4 linked regions of the Homo sapiens genome follow. The protein of the gene in region 3 purifies or fractionates together with the protein of the main gene of each other region. This does not show direct contact. Each region holds a gene or a part of one and is shown on either strand. Other genes may lie near its edges.

Evidence for each region. Proteins that work in one complex are often made in the same cells at the same time.
Region 1: the proteins of SLCO3A1 (region 3) and TDP1 purify together in Homo sapiens (affinity purification with mass spectrometry; one large-scale study listed by BioGRID and IntAct). This does not show direct contact.
Region 2: the proteins of SLCO3A1 (region 3) and TMEM87A fractionate together in Homo sapiens (co-fractionation; one large-scale study listed by BioGRID). This does not show direct contact.
Region 4: the proteins of SLCO3A1 (region 3) and PNKD purify together in Homo sapiens (affinity purification with mass spectrometry; one large-scale study listed by BioGRID and IntAct). This does not show direct contact.

Annotation. Positions count from the first base shown.
Region 1 is NC_000014.9:89,979,226-89,984,400, reverse strand, and holds part of TDP1 (tyrosyl-DNA phosphodiesterase 1), read right to left. Parts: intron 3,862-5,175; coding exon 3,769-3,861; exon of another isoform or gene 3,722-3,768; intron 2,939-3,721; exon of another isoform or gene 2,841-2,938; intron 1,288-2,840; exon of another isoform or gene 1,125-1,287; intron 1-1,124. UniProt on the Homo sapiens protein: DNA repair enzyme that can remove a variety of covalent adducts from DNA through hydrolysis of a 3'-phosphodiester bond, giving rise to DNA with a free 3' phosphate.
Region 2 is NC_000015.10:42,211,217-42,215,134, forward strand, and holds part of TMEM87A (transmembrane protein 87A isoform 1 precursor), read right to left. Parts: intron 534-3,918; coding exon 492-533; 3' UTR 1-491. UniProt on the Homo sapiens protein: Potential monoatomic ion channel gated by mechanical force, implicated in normal touch sensitivity through the generation of mechanically activated currents.
Region 3 is NC_000015.10:91,855,710-91,860,884, reverse strand, and holds part of SLCO3A1 (solute carrier organic anion transporter family member 3A1), read right to left. Parts: intron 1-5,175. UniProt on the Homo sapiens protein: Putative organic anion antiporter with apparent broad substrate specificity.
Region 4 is NC_000002.12:218,335,818-218,340,992, reverse strand, and holds part of PNKD (probable thioesterase PNKD isoform 1 precursor), read right to left. Parts: intron 1,211-5,175; coding exon 1,095-1,210; intron 965-1,094; coding exon 852-964; intron 266-851; coding exon 207-265; intron 1-206. UniProt on the Homo sapiens protein: Probable thioesterase that may play a role in cellular detoxification processes; it likely acts on a yet-unknown alpha-hydroxythioester substrate.

The DNA.
Region 1 (5,175 bases), on a different chromosome or scaffold from region 3:
AAGTAATCTTAGGAAACATGAAACATAAATCTGAGAACACCACTCCAATGGTTTCTCATCACATTCAGAATTATTCCTGAATGTCTTGCCATGAATTTAAGATTCAGTAAGACCTGGGCTCTGCCCACCTCTTCCAACCCACATCCCTCCATGCTCCCTCTCACTTGCCAAACCTTCCTTATTGCTCCTCTTACCTCTGCACCTATATATTGCTTTCTAAGACTTGATGACAAGAGTTAAGAATTCTACTCTTAACGGTTAAAGCAAATCCATGCTACTAGTGGTAATCCCAAGCAAGAATTTGCCCTTGTCTGCATCAATGCAGCTCTTCAGCCAAATGTGAAATAAGAATTGTGTTATCTATACCAAAAGTGCATGTGAAAAATCTATTTTCAATTAACAAACCCATTTTCATAACGTAGGTCCTATAGCAGCATATTTTTATGTCTTATACTTTCTGGTGCCTGGATTAAGTATATATCACATTCAGTGACATTACAATAACCTCAAACTTTCAACACTTAATTCACTGAAGAAGCATTACAGACATCTTTCATTTCATTAATTCTTTTTCCCTAGAGGAAAACAATGCTCTTTGCCAAAACTTCTACATTATATCCATAAATAGAAAACAATCATATCTAATCCCAATCCTTCTATAAACTGCTCCACAGTAGATTACTAAAATGGCTTCAAACCTCTTGTGCTTCAGTTTCTTCAAATGCAAAAAAGTGGGGTTAACAAGGCTGCCTCACTGGGCTGTTGCAAAGCAATGACTTACAGGAGCAGTCAAAAGTATCAGGTGTTACTTTTTTCCCCTTCTGTGGCTACTCTCCTTTTCCCCACCCTGGGTTCTATCTATTAAGCTGAAAGAGAAACTGCCCAATTTCTCTTTCACCTGGCAGCCCCTGAAGGAGACTGGCAAGATGCAGGCCACCAGGGCAGAAGGCATCCAGAACTGCAAGGACTCTCGGCCGTACATCTTCTCAACTCTGCAAGTTTCTAGCAAGGGGCATTTCATACCCCTGCTTCCCACCCTGGGGAGACACTTAGCACAGGAGGTAGCATGGTGTGATGAGGGCTGGAGCCCATGTTCTGGACCCAGATCGACTAGCTGACTATACCATTTTGGGTAAGCTCTGTGATCTCTCTGGGCCTTTGCCTCCGTGTGTAAAATGACCAGGTTGGGCTGGACAGACGTGGAGGACCTCCCCTTGCAATAGCACCTCAAAGTTCCCAGGCTGAGTGAGGCTCCTCCTGGATCAGAGATTCACTCACAGGTGAGTTCTGGATGAGAAACAAGACAAATGACTTTCTAAACTAAGATGCTGAGATATGAGGCATTTTTAACACATCACAAAATGAGAAAATTATTATAATGAGCCAAATAATTTTATTTTATTCTTTACTGTGAGCTTTGGATGCAACTCTTGTTCTAATTTTAAAAAGTGAGAAATCAACAGGTGGATCATGAGGCAGCTGAAGGGGATTAGCAGAACCACAGTAGACCAATTATGAAGTGAGATTGTATACAAAAACTGCTTTCAAAAGTTTTAAAATTACCACAAATAACATGAAATGCAAAACATTAGAGAGTAGAATATAGGCCAAGCATGAAATAATAGGATCCCACACCAGGATGGCTGCCAGAGGAAGATTTCATAGTCTTGGTACTTTCTGAGTTTTGAACCGTTCCTACCTAGTCAATAAGTTTTCCAAAATTTTAAATTAAAAAATACTTTTTTTAAATAAAAGAAACACCCAAGCCCTTATCCCTGCCTCTTCCCTCCTGGCAACCACCCCAGAGAATCCCAAGACAGTACTACTGCCTGTAAGCTAAGCTTCCAACTTCAGAAGGAGCTGGAGGCCCAGGGTGGGATTCTTGGAACCACGTGAGGCTGAGAGCTAACCTGAGAAATCCCTTTAGTAACATTGTTTCATGAGAACAAGCTACATTAATCTCATTGCCTTTTGATAGGGCCACATGAATCCCCAAACCCAATCTGGCAGCTCAGGAGAACTGGCTTAGAAGCTCTTGGGGTACCAAAGGCATAGTTAACCATAAATTCAGTAGATCAAGAAAGTGCTACAGCTGAGACTTAGAGACCAAGCAGCTATCCCCTCAACCCTGGACCAGTCAGAGCCACACTTCATTTTGAAAAGCATATTTTCAGTGGGATACTGAAAAATTATAACATGTTTATAGAAAAGCGACCAGGAATTACAGCTAGGGGTCTCAAAGCCACATGCTATGGTGGGGCAAGGGAGTGGGGAGGGAACAAGAGATGTAAGGCTCAGAAACAAGACTCCCTTTCAAACTCTGAAGGACTGCTTTAAGGGAGGGAGATTACATTTGTCCTGCGCAGTGCACTCAGGTTGAAGCAAGACCTGTTGAAGGAAACTGGAAAGCTATTTCAGCTCAAACTAAGATGTAACTTGGGGCCAGGCACGGTGGTTCATGCCTGTAATCTCAGCACTTTGGGAGGCTGAGGCAGGCGGATCACTTGGCAACTAGGCAAAACCTTGTCTCTACAAAAAATAAAGACAGTTAGCCAAGTGTGGTGGTACGTGCCTGCAGTCCCAGTTACCCAGAAGGCTGAGGTGGGAGGATCACCTGAGCCCAGGAGGTTGAGGTTAAAGTGAGCCGTGATCGCATCACAGCATTGTAACCTGGGTGACAGAGTGAGACCGTCTCAAAAAAACAAACAAAACAAAGATGTAACCTGGGCTCAGCAGAGCTTAGCTGAAAGTAATACACTCCAAATTAGGAGTTCTAGCCCAAGCTAGGCAATGATATGGGGCAGGGTGAGGCAGAGGAGGATGACAGAGAAAACGTGAACCTGGAAATGGTGCTAGACAAACGTCCGAGTTTCTCCCAACACAGAAGGCTGTTTGTTAACCAGCTCTTCTCTAGCACAGGCAGAGATGTACAAAATGGCTTAAACAAAAGAAAATTAAAGTTAGTCATAATCAAGAACAATAGCTGAACTTGTTGAGCAAATCCCTAAAGCTCCCTTTTAAAAAGCAAACCCCTCTTGAAAAGGGGATCAAAACCTGGATCTAGCATATGTGCACCAAGTACAGAGGGTTAGTAGTTTAAAAAGTTCATAAAAGCTTTCGTATTCAGTTCTTCTCTTGGAGATTCACAACTTTATTAACACACTAAAGGCTCTAAAAAGACACCAGCTTAAATTTGTTTCAAAGAAAATACACCAACTGGGGGAGTGGGGAAATATTTAGCACACTATTAACATGACCAGGCCCTACCCCAACTTTTCCTTTGATTCCTGTTTGGGAAGTGGTAAGCAAAAATACAGGTGGGTACATGAGTAAGGAGAAATCACAAAAGCTATCTGGTAAATCCTACTAGGAAAACAATAGGTTCAGATCTTTCATTCTGTAACCCCTTTTCTGCCTCAGATCTCTGCATGTGCTGTGCCCTCTACTTAGCTGTAGAGTGTATATGATGCCACTTCTCTAAAAACTAGGAAGAGACTACTGTGTGTAAATAGTAATGTATGTTTACATGTACAGCAGAGGTAGCTGTGGATGATGATGCTCCTGTTAACACTGGTTACCCCAAGAAGGTAGAATGGGGCAGGTAGTAAAAGAATACAGTAACTTTTTCTGCATACAACTCTTTTTCTAGGCCATGTGTGTTATTTTTACAACTTAAAAAAAAAATAGAAAAAAGAATAAAGTGAATGTTCTGGCTTTTGACCTTTATCAACACACACACTGCCAGGAAGTGAGCAGGCCCCTACGAACCCTTGAGTTTTCTGGTGCCAGTCAGCATGGATGAGGTTGGAGGTGTGTATGACAACCCGGAGGCCTTCTTCATAGAGCAGCAGCATCATTTTCCTTTAAAAACAGCAAAGGATCAAAAAGCATTAATAGTACTTTCAAAATATGTAATACCTTTCCAATGCAAATGTAATACATAGCTAAAGGAATTTTTTTAAACTCTCATATTACCCAAACTTAACATTTATAATCTTCCCTTCTATACATTACCATGATGAAAGTCTGCCTAAGTGATAGGATGAAAACCTTTCAGAAAGGTTGAGTATTTGGTGGTAAAAGAACTTTCAACCCTAGTGCCAGTCCTGGCACTTCACATCCCTCCAGCCTGGCCCCTTATTATCTATTCAGCATTACCTGTTACTACTAGGGACCGTTGGAACCTTCTGGTCTGGTGTTTGAGATTCAAAGTATGGTCAACAACCTCTTGCTGCATCATGGCTGGCATTTTTTAAACAACTAAAATAGCATAAATTGGTATACTGTATATATTTAATTACTGGTTCATGAAATTTTGTTTTGGCACAAAGGTATGTTAGTGCACAATACACTGAAATGTAAAGTGTATTTCTTATTATGAGTTGAAATTTTAAGAAGTTTAAAAGATGCTTCATTACCATTAGTGGTTTTTTGTATCCATAGATGCCACACTTGTCAAAAGTGTGTTATCTGGGCTTGGGGTAAGTCTTGCCTATTCTTCATTAACCCAAATCAGACTTAGTGGGGTCCACTCTTTTTCCATGTGACCTCCCCAGGCCTCTAGTCGAACACATTTCTCTTATTTTAATTGCAGTGAGAGAGAGGGAATAGGATATAGATAAAAGCTTTCCATTTGAAGTCTGAAGACCTGAGCTCCAGACTTTGTCATTTAGAAGCCCTTTGACCCTAGGTAAGCCATTCAATGTCCCCGAGCCTCAGTTTTCCACTTGTATCTCTAAGGATCAACCCCACTTCAGGACTATTGTGAGTGAAATGCAAAAATACATTTTGCTGCCAGGCACGGTGGCTCATGCCTGTAATCCCAGCACTTTGGGAGGCTGAGGCTGGCAGATCACCTGAGGTTAGGAGTTTGAGACCAGGCTTGCCAACATGGTGAAACCCATCTCCACTAAAAATATAAAAATTAGCTAGGTGTGGTCGTGGGCACCTGTAATCACAGCTACTAAGCAGGCTGAGGCAGGTGAATCAGTTGAAGCTGGGAGGCGGAGGTTGCAGTGAGCCGAGACTGCACCACTGCACTCCAGCCTGGGTGACAGAGTGAAACTCTGTCTCAAAAAAAAAAAAAAATTGTTAAATGTGAAACACTCTCACCTGTACATTCCTATTACTCCTTTGGTACACAGCTTTATTTTCTCATCTAATAATGGATGATTT
Region 2 (3,918 bases), about 50 Mb from region 3:
CTGCAAGATGTAACCTTGACTTCCCAGGAAAATGAAAGGTAGTTAACAATTTCCCCCATCACCTATGTAACTCCCTAAATAAATAAAAATTACAGGCAGTTGCTCCTGGAGATTACATATTATGGTGTTGATGACAATCTTTTAGAAGACGTTAAACTTTTTAGTTTGTCAGATTTAAAAAATGAAACATTACAGAAAGTTCAGGAACAACACACTTAAGTTGCATGAACATCCATGTCAGAGTCTGGGAGGAAAGGGGGCAGCAGTGTTGTAAATAAGAAGCTCGTAGATTTTTCTCATCTTATGAACTTGTTTTCAGTAAGATGTTCTCTTTGTTCTGACACCTCTCGCCAACTCCAATGCCCAAAGATCAAGGAACAGATCAGGATGTCATTGCTTCCTTTAATCCCATGGAGCCGTACAGAAGACTGACACAGATGCTGATCTCTTCCCTGATGGTAGCCATCTTTAACTGCAAATCTTCCCATTCCTTACTCCATTTTGGACCTTTCAAAGTGTGTGATCATTCGTTCCTAGGGAAAAAAAAAAAGGTTGAAGTATATTAGGTTAAAATGATCTATATTCCAAATATCTTCTATACAGACTATCCAAGCAAACATCTTCCACGAGTACTTTATGTTAATTAAATGTTTAGAGAAATGGTTCCTAAACATTTGTGAAGATTTTGAACATACAGATGTCCAGACCTCACCCAAGAACAACTAAATCAAAAGCTCTAGGCTTCTGGACAGAAAATCAGCACTCAGAAGGAAATGTATAGAGTCAGCTAAGATCTTATGTAAACAAATATTTACATAAGATTAGGCTTTAATAAAAATGTGTAACTCCTCTAATTCAGGAATTTCACTTGAAGACCCAGTGAAGGATGAGGGCAAAGACGTGCACCTAGTTAGCACTTTGCACTTTAGAATGGTTAGGAGGGTTGATTTGTTATGTGTTTTTTACTACACTTTTTAAAAATCATGTAAAAAATAAAATTACATTTAATTTAATATAGTATTTACAGTATCCCATTTCAATTAAAATAATTAATGTACTACCCTTAAATTTCCCTTCTTAGGCAATTTTATACCTTAGAGTTAATTTTCATTTTTCTTTTGCTTCATTTGCGAAGTACCTCTCACTATTGTATCACAAACTGACAGAACTACAAATCCTTTTTGAATATAATCAATCACATCAGATAATCTATAGATGTTTCCCTTTTTCTTAAAAATATCCTTTCCGATGCTCTCTGTTCTCCACTCCATCCAAGCCTGGTGCCCAGCTGCCAACCTGAGAATTTCTTACATCATACTGGGAATTTTTCTTGTCTCTGTGTTGGACCCTTTATTTCCTAGATCCCAAGTCTTTTTCCTAGCTTCCTCATTTTTGTGGAGAACATTTTCCCCTACTTTCTTCAGAAACTGCATATAGAACATCAATTATTTTACTTCTTGTGTGACTAGAAACATCTTTATTTTACCCTCATAATGATAGTTTAGTTGAGTACAGAATTCTAGGTTGAAAATGATTTTCCTCAGAATTCAAAGGCTTTGTTCTGGCTCCCAAAGATGTTGTTGAAGAGCCTTATGCCATTTTGATTCCTGGTCCATCATGTAAATTGTTTCTCCTGTAATTCATTTAAGGTCTTTTTCAGTTTTAAGGGAAAAAAAGGCCTTGGAGAAAGTGATGTCAGCAAGATGACAGAATAGGAAGCCCTGGACACTCCTTCCCTCTACAGACACACTGATTCAATAACACATGGAAAAATTCCCTTTGTGGGAAATCCAGAAACCAGTTGAGGGTCTTCTGCACTATAGGAAAGCATGAAACCAGCTGAATCAAAGTCGGCAGAAAAACCTGAGGCACCCTCTTGCCATAATTCTTCCCTTCCCATGGACCCAGCACAGTACCACATGATAGAGAGGAAACCCTCAGCTCCCAGCTTCTTTTTGCAGAGGGAAGGAAATGACTGGAATGTACATCCAACATTCTGACTTTTCTGGAACCTGCACGAGAGACTGTTTTCTGTCTTGCCTGAGTCCGAGAGCTAAAAACAAAGGGCCCAGGTTGGAAGTTGCTGAAATCAAAGTGGAAGTTTGGACTAGCAAGCATGAGCTCACTACAGCCGCTCCCCCAGCTCAGTGCAGAGTAAGCAGGTAGAATCCCCAACATCCCCAAATCCTAGCTTTTCCCTAGGGAGGAGAGATGGACTGTGAAAATGTTCCAACTTTGTAAGAGGTTACCTGAGGGAATGGTTTCTGTAGGGAATGGTTTGAAGCACAGATGGGACCAGTATATTTTAGGTGCCTGGGGCCAGTATGAACAAAAAAAGAGCTGGGCTATGCCACTGGCTCCAGGAGACCCATGATACAGCAGATAAACACAAAAGGGAGCAAGAGATTATAAATTCCTGGGGAGGGAAAAACCCAGCAAATCCCTCTGATTGGGAATACATATGCAGAAGTCCAGAAAAGACATAATACAGAGTGGGTTAGAGAGGCTATCAGAATGATTGATGAGGGTGTTCTCCTGTACAATGCCAGTCCATGAACACTGGAAAGGTAACTGTTTTTTTTTCTAATGCAATGAAACCAACACAAAGAATTAAGGAAAATAGAGAATCAGTGAAACATGGCCCAAACAAAGGAAGAAGATAAATCTCTGGAAACCAACCCCAGTGAAACAGAGGTATAGGAATTATTTGAAAGAGAATGCAAAACAACTATCATGAAGATGTTCAACGAACTCAGGAGAACAATGCATGAACAAAGTAAGAATTTCAATAAAAATATACAAAACATTTTTAAAAATATGCCAAGAAACTGGATAACCTAGAACAAAATATATAATTCCTAGAAGTATACAATCTACCAAGACTGAATCATCAAGGAATAGAAAATCCGGGGGGGGAACACACAACCTGGTAAGACCTACAACAAGATTCCATCAGTAATCAAAAACATCCCAACAAAAAAACAGCCCAGGACCAGATGGCTTCTTTAGTTGAGTCCTACCAGGTACTTAAAGACAAAGTAACACTAATCCTTCTTAAACGCTTTCAAAAAAATTAAAGACGAAAACATTTATTTGGAAGGAACTTCCAAACTTATTCTATGAGGCCAGCATTACCCTAATGCCAAAGCCAAAGACATGACAAGAAGAGAAACGACAGGCCAATATCCCTGATGAGCAGACGCAAAAATCTTCAATGAAACAATGGAAAACAGAATTTAACGGCACGTTGAAAGAATCACATACTATGACCAAGTGGAACAAAATAGAAAGCCCAGAAATAAAACTACACATACATGGTCAACTGATCTTCGAAAAGAGAGACAACACTACACAGTGGGGAAACTGACAGTTTCCTCAACAAATGGTGCTGGAAAAACTAGATATTCACATGAGAAAGAATGAAAGTAACTCATCTTCACTATACACAAAAATCAACTCAAAATAGATTAAAGACTTAGACAAGTCAAAATAGATTAAAGAATTAGACATAAGATTTGAAACCACAAAACTCCTAGAAGACAACCTAAGTTTCTTGAAATTGGTCTTAGCAGTGATTTCTTGTCTAAGACACCAAAAGCACAAAACAAGAGCAAAACAGACCAATGGGACTACATCAAACTAAAAAGCTTCTGCACAGCAAGGGAAGCACACAACAGAATGAAAAGCAACCTACAGAATTGGAGAAAATATTTGCATACTACATACAGTCACGTATACTTAATGATAGGGATACATTCTGAGAACTGCATCATTAGGCAATTTCATAGCTGTGTGAACTTCACAGAATATACTTACACAAATCTAGATGTTATATAGCCTACTACATACCTCGGCTATATGTATAAGCCTATTGCTCTAGGCTAAAAACCTGTACAGCATGTTACTGTACTGAATACC
Region 3 (5,175 bases):
ATGAGAAACCAAAAAAAAAGACCAAGCGTGGGGAAATGCCCACAGACCTGCTTGCCAGAGTCCACTTAATACTGCAAGAGAACACGAGGTGAAGGCAGCAGACAAGACGTGAGACCTGAGCCCCTCTGGGCAACCAAGGCTGAGCTCTGCGAAGGCACGTTTTAAACAAGGCTGCCTGGAGGGCAGCATATGTCCACAACATATGTCCCTTTGTCCTCGCCCTCCTGACACCTCGGGCTCCCTTGAATTGGTCACTCAGCCTTTCAGCCAGTGAAGCAGAGCAAGCTTCAGGAGCCCAGATCACCAGTTTAGGAAACAGAAGCCTTGGCCTCACACAATATTCCAAATCCTCAGCTCCCTGGGAGGGACTTTTGTTGGTGCTAATGTCAACGAGCAGGGTTATACCATTACTGTTAAAGCAACTGTGGAATACTGTACCCTATGAGAAGTACTCTATCACATGACTATTTGTTTAAACCTCACAACCATCTGTAAGATAAGCTTGATCATTATCCCCATTTTTCAGATGAGGCTATTGAGGCTCGAGTAAGTGAAGTTGCCAGGAGCTGGGAAATAGCAAGTCTAAGTTCAAATCCAGGTCTTCCAACTCCAAGTCCAACATTCTTTCCACCTACCCTCAGCCTTCAGCACCCAGTGGCCACAGACCACAGCAAGAGATACTGAGGACCTCCCAAAGTGAAGCATCAGGGTACCTGCCCCGCCCAGCCAGTCCTGCCTGCCCTGCTTTAACCTCCTTCAAGTACCCATGGACTGTAAATGATCAACATGAATCACCATTCCTGCAGTGGGCTCCTCTCCCATGTGACTAATTTTTATAGCATCTTTAAGATGAAATGGATTGCTATATTTATAAGGGAATAAACAGAATTAGCAACTGATATTTAGCTTATTACTTGCCCTTAAAAACTTTTTACCTCCCAGACAAAAATGTCCATGTAGAATAGGAAACTACTTGAATATGCAATTCACTAAACCAAAACTAAAGTTTAATTGAAATAATTTTATTTCTCATTGGTTGGGGCTACACGGTTATTATGTTTGCAGTAAATATGCATAACCATATTATTATTAATAGTAATAGCTAATATTTCCTGGGCACTCACTATGTGCCAGATATTGTTCAAGGTGCTTTACATGTACTGACTCAGTTCATCCTCACAGCAAAACAGAGGGTAGGTACTATTATAACCCCAGTTATAAAATGAAAAATTGAGGTACACAGAGATTAAGTAAACAGCTCAAGGTCACAGAGCAGGTAAGGGGAGGACATAGGCATGAATCCCAGTCTTCTAACACTCATCGAATAAGCGACAGCTGCCACAGACACTTGCCTTTCTCCACCTTGGAACTGTAATCATTTAACTTGGAGTTTTAACCATTAAGCAATAATTTGTCTCATGCTAACACATAAACACTTAGGCTACATAAAATACAAGTGTCTTTGAATCACATCAATTCATTTATCCTATGAGCCAAGGTCCATGATTCCACTGTTTTTCCTGTTTATATCTGTTTTCCAGATACAGACATAGAAACCGAAAATAAAAATGAATTGAAAGAGTAAGGATGCTATCTTTCTGGCCTACAGATTACCAAAGGCATTTCCGAGAGGCAAGAAAATACCGAGATTTTCTTCAGGGGAGAACGGTTCCAAATCCATGTGTCAACCATACAGTCAAAGTTACCATTGAAATGTCCCTTCGCACCTTCAAAAAGTATGGCATACAATATTCATTGTATGCAACGCTGTACACAAACACGTATGTAAATATGCAATGCATGCGGCAATGTACAGAATAGAGTACATATGCAGAAGAGAAGTACTTTGACTCCACTTTAGAGAAACATGCTTATTAAATGATGCATGTAGTGAAATCTGCGCGAGTTGGAACTAAAGCCAGAGAAATGCAGCTAGTAGGGAGTTTTATTCTTCACTCTTTCTGCATGAAATGCAGCTGTATCCTCATCATTTTTGCAATACTACCCTTGTTCATCCAGGCCAATCTGCTAAGAGAATACAGTCCCTGATCAAGGCAGCACCTCAAAGTTTGCTTTTAGGTGTGCAAAATAAATTCACAGAGACCCTGTTGGTGGGGCTGCCTTTGCCCAGCAGTTCACCAATGACTTCGTGCAAGAAGCAGCCCATGCAGCATAACAGAAAACACGATTCCAGCAGCACCCAAGATGAGCTGCAAATGCTGGGCAATTGATTAGCAAGGCGGTGCCACTGCAGAGAGGCCTCTTGGCGATCCTTTTCATAAGGTGTCTAAAATTGAATGAGGGGAAGAGTTAACAAAATGCAGGATAGAGCCCTCGCTCATTTTACAACTCATTCAGTTTCTTCTATTGTTAAATACACCAACAAAAACCCCCTCACAAACAAAGATAAATACACAAACCTGGCTGAAAAGAATTTTCAGAAACACCTTTTTCCCTTAATAATTATTAACATTTTGAATCTAGCTATAAGGAAAAAAAAAATCAAGGTAATTTTATTTCTTACTACCTGGGGCTACATAGTAATTATGGAAATGGCAAGGAATTTTGTCACTTTGAGTAAGCATAAGTGTATAAAATAATTTGATTAAATAAAATACGGTTACCTTAGTCATCATAGTAATTTGACAAGGACTTTAAAAATGTCTCTCTCTGTTGAAAATGTCAACAGACAGTTTCCTGAGCTGTCTGCTTCTGGGTTGAATATGCAGAAACTCATCTTCGAAATGATGTTTCTTTAGAAAAAAAAAAGGAGTAACAAACCTAGCAGTTTCGCCTCACCCATTAATTGCAAGCCCACTTGACTATTCTCAGGCTGAAAGAAAAAGTGTGACTACAAAGCAGTGAGATAGAGCCTCATTAACCACACTCAGTCATCTATGTCATTATTTTGTCACCACAACCTCAAACTTATTTTTCTATAACTCTAAATAGGGAAATACCTACCCCTTGTTCACAGGAACTCCCTTTGTGCCCCACCCAGGAAACTAGACTGGCCTTTTTTCAGTTTTCAACCTGAGGAAATTCAAATGTATTTGTATGTATGCCTCAAACTAATCATCTAGAAGTGTCAGAGGCTTTAATTTCCTGTACACACCCTTATCTACTCCAGTCCTCAGTAATTTGATACCACACAGAAACCTCTATATGCAGGGCTACCCTCAGCGAGTGGCTTAAAACATTTTAGGGGGTCTCTGCAAAACACCAATAGGCACACACAAAATGACTTTCTCCCCATGCAGTTCTCATATGCCTGCATCTTCTCCAACCAGTCCAAGACTTAAGCACATGTTACATCCTTGCAAACAGGACTGGAGCCACTCGAAGCCAAAACCCAAGTAGAAGAAAATTAAATTGCATTCTCTGTTCCATACAAAATGACTATCAAACCGAGCAGGCCTCTCCTCTTATGCTGCAAAAATTATGTCATAGCCAGTCAGGAGGTTTAGGTGACTATGATGGAACATCCCTGTGACTATTGGTTTATCTGAAGCATGGTTTCCAGTTAAGATGTTTGTAACCGTAATAGATTTCAGAATCCACAGTTGGCCCAGGTTGCACCTGGGTTACTTTATCTAGATCACTGAGTCTGGCTTTCAGGATCAGTGTCTTTCTGTACTGCCTGACACCAAGGCAAAAGTTGCAGGCCCCCAGCCTAGCCTAACAATTGATGGCCTTATATACAATACAGTTTTCCTTTGAGTTTCCTCCCTGGGCAGGTTCTTGGTGGAAAACAAACACATGCATACATACACACACACACAGACACACACACACATTTTCTCTCTCTCTCTCTCACACACACACACACACACACACACACACACACACACACACGAGTCCTCCTTCTCAAAGTTGCTTCTTAAATCACAGGCAACCTTCTGCTTCAGTTCTGCAGTTGGGAAGCCTACACTAGTGTCATTCAGGACACTGAGAAATTTGTCTTTTCAGAAAAAAATAAGGAAATGAAACTGCAATATTTTAAGGCACCTGGGGAGATGAAATAAGAAGGTGGACTCTGGGAATCTAATAGGAAATAACATCGTTGGCATAGAATTTGTAACCACCCTCCTCTCTGTGAAAGGGAGCATTACTGGCACTGTCCCAAGGCAAGTCCTTCCTCAAGTATCTGGAAATGCCTCATTAGAGAGGCAGGCTGATTGCCAAGGTAAGGATCACGTATAACGCACACTTAGCACGTGGACCCTGCCCTGTGGTCCCCTACAGACACAAGGTCTCAGGTTTCCTAAGAAAGCCATGATGAATTAAAAGGAAGAAATGTGCCTTTCCTGCAAACAGCCTGCAATATTTCATTCTCCAATTATCCACAGAGAAGTCTCGCATGGCTGAAGGAGCAAACTTTTTTTCCCCATCTCCCAAATAACAGATGAAGAGAAAACTCTGAAGTGGCCCAGAAGAGCAAAGCCCATAGCAAGCTGCGTCAGTCAACCCTGACAAGCCAACTATTTATTTTCATGAGGCTCCGATGGCAAGGCAAAGACGAGGGCAGCCGGGCAAAGCAGAGCCCTTAGAGCCTTATGCCTCCACTCCTAGTAATCAAAATGAATTCAATTTCCTAGGCCTGTCCTCTCCTGGGCCTCCAGCTGCTTTCTGCAAGTCACCTGTTGACTCCTGTTACCCTACCCCACCCAACCAGGCTTTCCATCAGCGAAGGCTAGAAGTGCCAGGATGCCGCCACCAGGTGGACCGAATTCCTCCTCTGCTTGCCATTCCCCTGTTCTGGGATTAAAGTCAACCTCCTATCTCCTGGGGCCAGCCCTGCCTCCAGAAGTCCACCACTCCAGGAGTACTCGGCTTCTTAACTTTCTAAAGGAGCTAGGCCATTCATCTAGTTGCAGCCCAGCTTCATTTATTTGTCAAATCCTTAGATCACTGCAACCGAAAAATAGTAAGCCCACGCTTTTATCACTCCTGGGGTGAAAAGTTCTGCGGGTGTTTGCCACACATGAATAATGCACTCTACCGAGCAAAATTGGTTTGAGGCAAACAAACCGTTAAAGTGGAGGCAGCTGTTGATATACTAATTACCTCCTTCTAAACATAGACCCGGTTAGGTATTATGTACTTTGCATATGTCACAGTACAGACCCACATATATTTTATTAATGTGAATTTGCATCTCTGTAATACATGTAC
Region 4 (5,175 bases), on a different chromosome or scaffold from region 3:
CTGGGGCTTCAGAAGCTTGATCAATGGAGTGGTGGGAGACTGTCCCCTCTCCTCCCTCCCTGCTGGTGTCCAGGTGACTTCACGAGGAAGGCGGGTGCCGGCCCGTACTGACTTCTTGATCTCTGGCCCCGGCCGTCCTCAATGGGCCCAGTCCTGGCAAGCCCAGCTGGGACAAGGGTGGGCCAGGGAAGACGGGAGCCCCTTACCAGTGCTTGTGAGTACACAGAATGGCGACCAAGGTGACCCCTTCCTTTTCAATGGAAGCCTGCGAGAGAGAGGAGGTTTGGAGACTGGGGAGCAGGATGCAAGAGGCACTTGAAGCAGCAAGAGCCAGGAGTGTGGGCGCTGGTGGAGAGGAGAGGAGAGCATGGAGAGATGAAGCAGAGGAAAGGGATGGAGCTGGAGGGGAGAGATCCAGGAATGTGAAGCACGGGGCACATGGAGGCAGAGGGACACTTGTACATAGAGAGAGGCAGACACAGAGAGATAAGGAATGGGAGGGAAAGACAGAGAGACCCAGATACTGACAGACAGAGGTGACAGAAAGAAAGGGGGTCTGAAGGGGGCCAATGGGAGTGAAAGCCAGCCTGGAAACTCACTAGACCCAGAGTCCTGGGCCAACACCCCCAGCCCTCTGGCTCTGCATCCCCCACTCCTGCTCTCCCCTTCTGCCCAGCCATGCCCTGTACCCCCCTTCCCCAGGCTATGTGTGCGCATGTGCACGTGTGAACATGGAGCATATGGGACACATCCCACGGGCAGACGGACAAGGGTCAGCCCTCTCTAGCAAGGCGAAACTGCCAGTCCCCAAGGTGACTCCAGGCACCCCCTGCTCCCTGCCCTCCCCTCACCTGCACAGCCCGAGGGTCTGAAGGGTCCACAGCCACAGCCAGCTGGGCCTGGGTGTCGATGATGAGGTAGCTGTAGTTGTCCGAGAGGACAGGGATGGGAAGCACCTTCACTCCTGGGGACAGAGATGGGCTGTGGGCGGGGTAACAGGCAGGGAGCCCAGGGGCTGGGGTATGTGAAGGGGAGCAGGCGGGGAGGGTGGGGGCACAGAATGGGGGATGCTGGCCGGGGCAGTCAGAGCTCACCATTGAAGAGGCGGGGCTGGGTTTTCGAGTGGCCTTTAGGGTAGCGATTCCGAGCCCTGCGCAGCTGCTGTCGGTAGAAGAGGTACCCGAGCCAGGTGCGGGTGTACAGGCTGTACCTAGAGGGCGAGTGGGTGGCCTATGATTAGCCTTTTCTCCCTAGCTCCCCTAGACTCCTTCGTGATGCCTGCAGGCCCCACATCTCCATTCCTTTGGTGACCCTGTGAGCCAATGCAATTCCACTCTCACTTATTATGTGCCTACTGTTTGCCCTGCTTAGCACTCAGGACAAGATGGAGAATGAGACGGACACACCTAGAACTCAAAATCTATCAGGGAGACATGAACTGAGGAACTCACAGAAGAAAATTGGAGAGGCCAGGCGCAGTGGCTCACACCTGTAATCCCAGAACTTTGGGAGGCCGAGGTGGGCGGATCACCTGAGGTCAGGAGTTCGAGACCAGCCTGACTAACATGGCGAAACCCTGTCTCTACTAAAAATACAAAACTTAGTCGGGTGTGGTGGCACACGCTTGTAGTCCCAGCTACTCAGGAGGCTGAGGCAGGAGAATTGGGCATCGCACCACTGCACTGCAGCCCAGGCCAAAGAGTGAGACTCTGTCTAAAAAAAAAGAGAGACTTGGAGAGTGAGGGGTTTAATCTAGCCCAGGGTCTAGCACCTCTGATGAAGTGACATTTGCAGGGAAGAAGGAGTAGGAATTAGGAGGCTGAAATGAGGTAGAAAAAATATTTCAGAAAGAACAGTGGTGGTCAGACTTTAGCATGCATCCTAATCATCTGAAGAAGGTTGGGTACAGTGGCTCACACCTGTAATCCCAGCACCTTGGGAGGGAAGGAGAGAGGATCACTTGAGCCCAGGAGTTCGAGACCAGCCTGGGCAACATTGTGCCCTATAGGGTCTCTACACACACAAAAAAAAGAATAGCTGGGCGTGGTGGCACACGCCTGTGGTCCCAGCTACTCAGGTAGCTGAGGCAGGAGGATTGCTTGAGCCCGGGAGGGTGAAGCTGCAGTAAGCCATGATTGCACCACTGTACTCCAGCCTGGGTGACAAAACAAGACCCTGTCTCAAAAAAAAAAAAAAAAAAATCATCTGAGGCTGGGTGTGGTGTCTCACGCCTGTAATCCCAGCACTTTGGGAGGCCGAGGCAGGTGGATCATCTGAGGTCAGGAGTTCAAGACCAGCCTGACTAACATGGTGAAACCCCGTCTCTACTAAAAATACAAAAATTAGCCGGGTGTGGTGATGGGCACCTGTAATCCCAATTATCTTTTTTGTAGAGATGGGGTCTCAGTTTGTTGTCTAGGCTGGTCTCGAACTCCTGGGCTCAACAAATCCTCCTGCCTTGGCCTCCCAAAGTGTTAGGATTACAGGTGTGAGCCACCGTGTCCCACCTGAAATTCTTTTTTTTTTTTTTTTGAGACAGAGTCTCGCTCTGTTGCCCAGACTGGAGTGCAGTGGTGCAATCTCGGCTCACTGCAACCTCCACCTCCCAGGTTCAAGTGATTCTCCTGCCTCAGCCTCCCGAGTAGCTGGGATTACAGGCTCACACCACCATGCCCGGCAATTTTTTGTATTTTTAGTAGAGACAGGGTTTTGCCACGTTGGCCAGGCTGGTCTCAAACTCCTGACCTTAGGTGATCCGCCTGCCTCGGCCTTTCAAAGTGCTGGGATTACAGGTGTGAGCCACTGTGCCTGGCCAAGCCTGAAATTTTTGTTTGTTTGTTTGTTTTTGAGAGGGAGTCTCACTCTGTCGTCAGGCAGGGGTGCAGTGGTGCAATCTCAGCTCACTGCAACCTCTGCCTCCCAGGTTCAGGCGATTCTCCTGCCTCAGCCTCCTGAGTAGCTGGGACTAGAGGCGTGCACCACCACACCCAGCTAATTTTTGTATTTTTAATAGAGATGGGGTTTCACCATGTGGGCCAGGATGGTCTCGATCTCTTGACCTCGTGATTTGCCCACCTTGGCCTCCCAAAGTGCTGGGATTACAGGGGTGAGCCACCGTGCCCGACCCTGAAATTCTTAATGATTTTATCTTTGACCTTGTGTCTTGCAAGTGGAGCCTGATAGGACAGTGGGACATGCAGGGAGCAAGAGACACACACAGTGAGTGTGCTCCGTTCCTCGCTTATCATACCTATACAGAGTCTGCAATGCCCATGAGCACACAAATCTGGGGGACACACAACGCATGGGAGTTCAACAAGACTCAAAGCAAGTACAAGGCGAGTGCACACCTATGACTGACCCAAGAGGCCAAGCTTTCAGTTCAAACTAGAACGTGCTTCAAGTGCACAAAGACAGAGGTGTTCTAAGAAACACGAATGACCAAGGAACTCTGCTGCATCCTTTCTTGCTTTTGTGTTATCCACCTATTTATGCTGCAAATAGCGATATAGAAAGGAAAGGGAAGATAGGGTAACCAATCCATCCTTTTCCTTTCCATCCTTCCTTATTAACTAGCAAGCCAACAGTGCTGGCAGAATGTGCACGTATTAAGAATTGAAGGCCGGGCGCGGTGGCTCATGCCTGTAATCTCAGAACTTTGGGAGGCCAAGGCAGGTGGATCACATGGTCAGGAGTTCAAGACCAGCCTGGCCAAGATAGTGAAACCCCATCTCTACTAAAACTACAAAAATTAGCTGGGCGTGGTGGCAGGCGCCTGTAATCCTAGCTACTTGGGAGGCTGAGGTTGTAGTAAGCCGAGATCTCACCACTGCACTCCAGCCTGGGCGACAGAGTGAGACTCCATCTCAATAAAAAAAAAGAAAAGAATTGAAGGCTGGGTGCAGTGGCACACACCTGTAATCCCAGCTCTTTGGAAGGCAGAGGCTGGTAGATCACTTGAGGTCAGGAATTGGAGACCAGCCTGGCCAACATGGTAAAACCCCATCTCTGCTAAAAATACAAAAATTAACAGGGTGTGGTGGTGGGCGCCTGTAATCCCAGCTACTTGGGAGGCTGAGGCAGGAGAATCACTTGAACCTGGGAGGCGGAGGTTGCGGTGAGCCAAGAAGATCACACCATTGCACTCCAGCCTGGGCAACAAGAGTGAAACTCTGTCTGAAAAAAAAAAAAAAAAAAAAAAAAAGAATTGAAGGCCAGGTGTGGTGACTCACTCCTGTAATCCCAGCACTTTCGGAGGTGGTGATGGAAGAAGTGCTTGAGCCCAGGATTTTGAGACCAGACTGGGCAACATGGCGAGACCCTGTCTCTACTAAAAATGCAAAAATTAGGCAGGCATGGTGGCATGCACTTGTGGTCCCAGCTACTTGGGAGGCTGAGGTGGGAGGATCACTTGAACCCAGGAGGTCAAGGCTGCAGTGAGCCATGTTTGCACCACTGCACTCCAGTCTGAGTGACAGAGGAGACCCTCTCCTGGTAAGAACTAAATACACATCCATGTATAAGCTAAGAAATATTAATTATGTCGTTTCTGTGATTCTACAGGAGTTAAATGTCCTTATATTTGTATTTAAAACAGGCATTGCACAATATTAAGCAAATGGTAAAATTCCTGCTAATAATTTAAATGCTTCTTACTTAGAATGACATTAAATAGCAAATTAAAAACATCACAGGTCAAAATAGAGATTGTAGAAGAAAAAAAGCTTCATATTTTAGTACTTTTAATGGCTATTTTTTCCAAACTTTTTTTTTTTTTTTGAGATGGAGTCTCACTCTGTCACCGTGCTGGAGTGCAGTGGCACGATCTTGGCTCACTGCAACCTCTGCCTCCCGGGTTCAAGTGATTCTCTTGCCTCAGCCTCCCGAGTAGCTGGGATTACAGGCACCCACCACCACGCCTGGCTAATTTTTGTACTTTTAGTAGAGACAGGGTTTCACCATGTTGGCCAAGATGGTCTCAATCTCTTGACCTCATGATCAACCCGCCTTGGCCTCCCAAAGTGCTGGGATTACAGACATGAGCCACCACGCCTGGCTGACCCTAAGTCTCTACAAGGATTGACCGTGTATGTGGGAGCAGGGGCAGCCGCTCTTCAGACCCCTAAGGGGAGAGCTAGCTGATTTGTCTGCAAGCAGTTGGGTCAAAACCAAGCA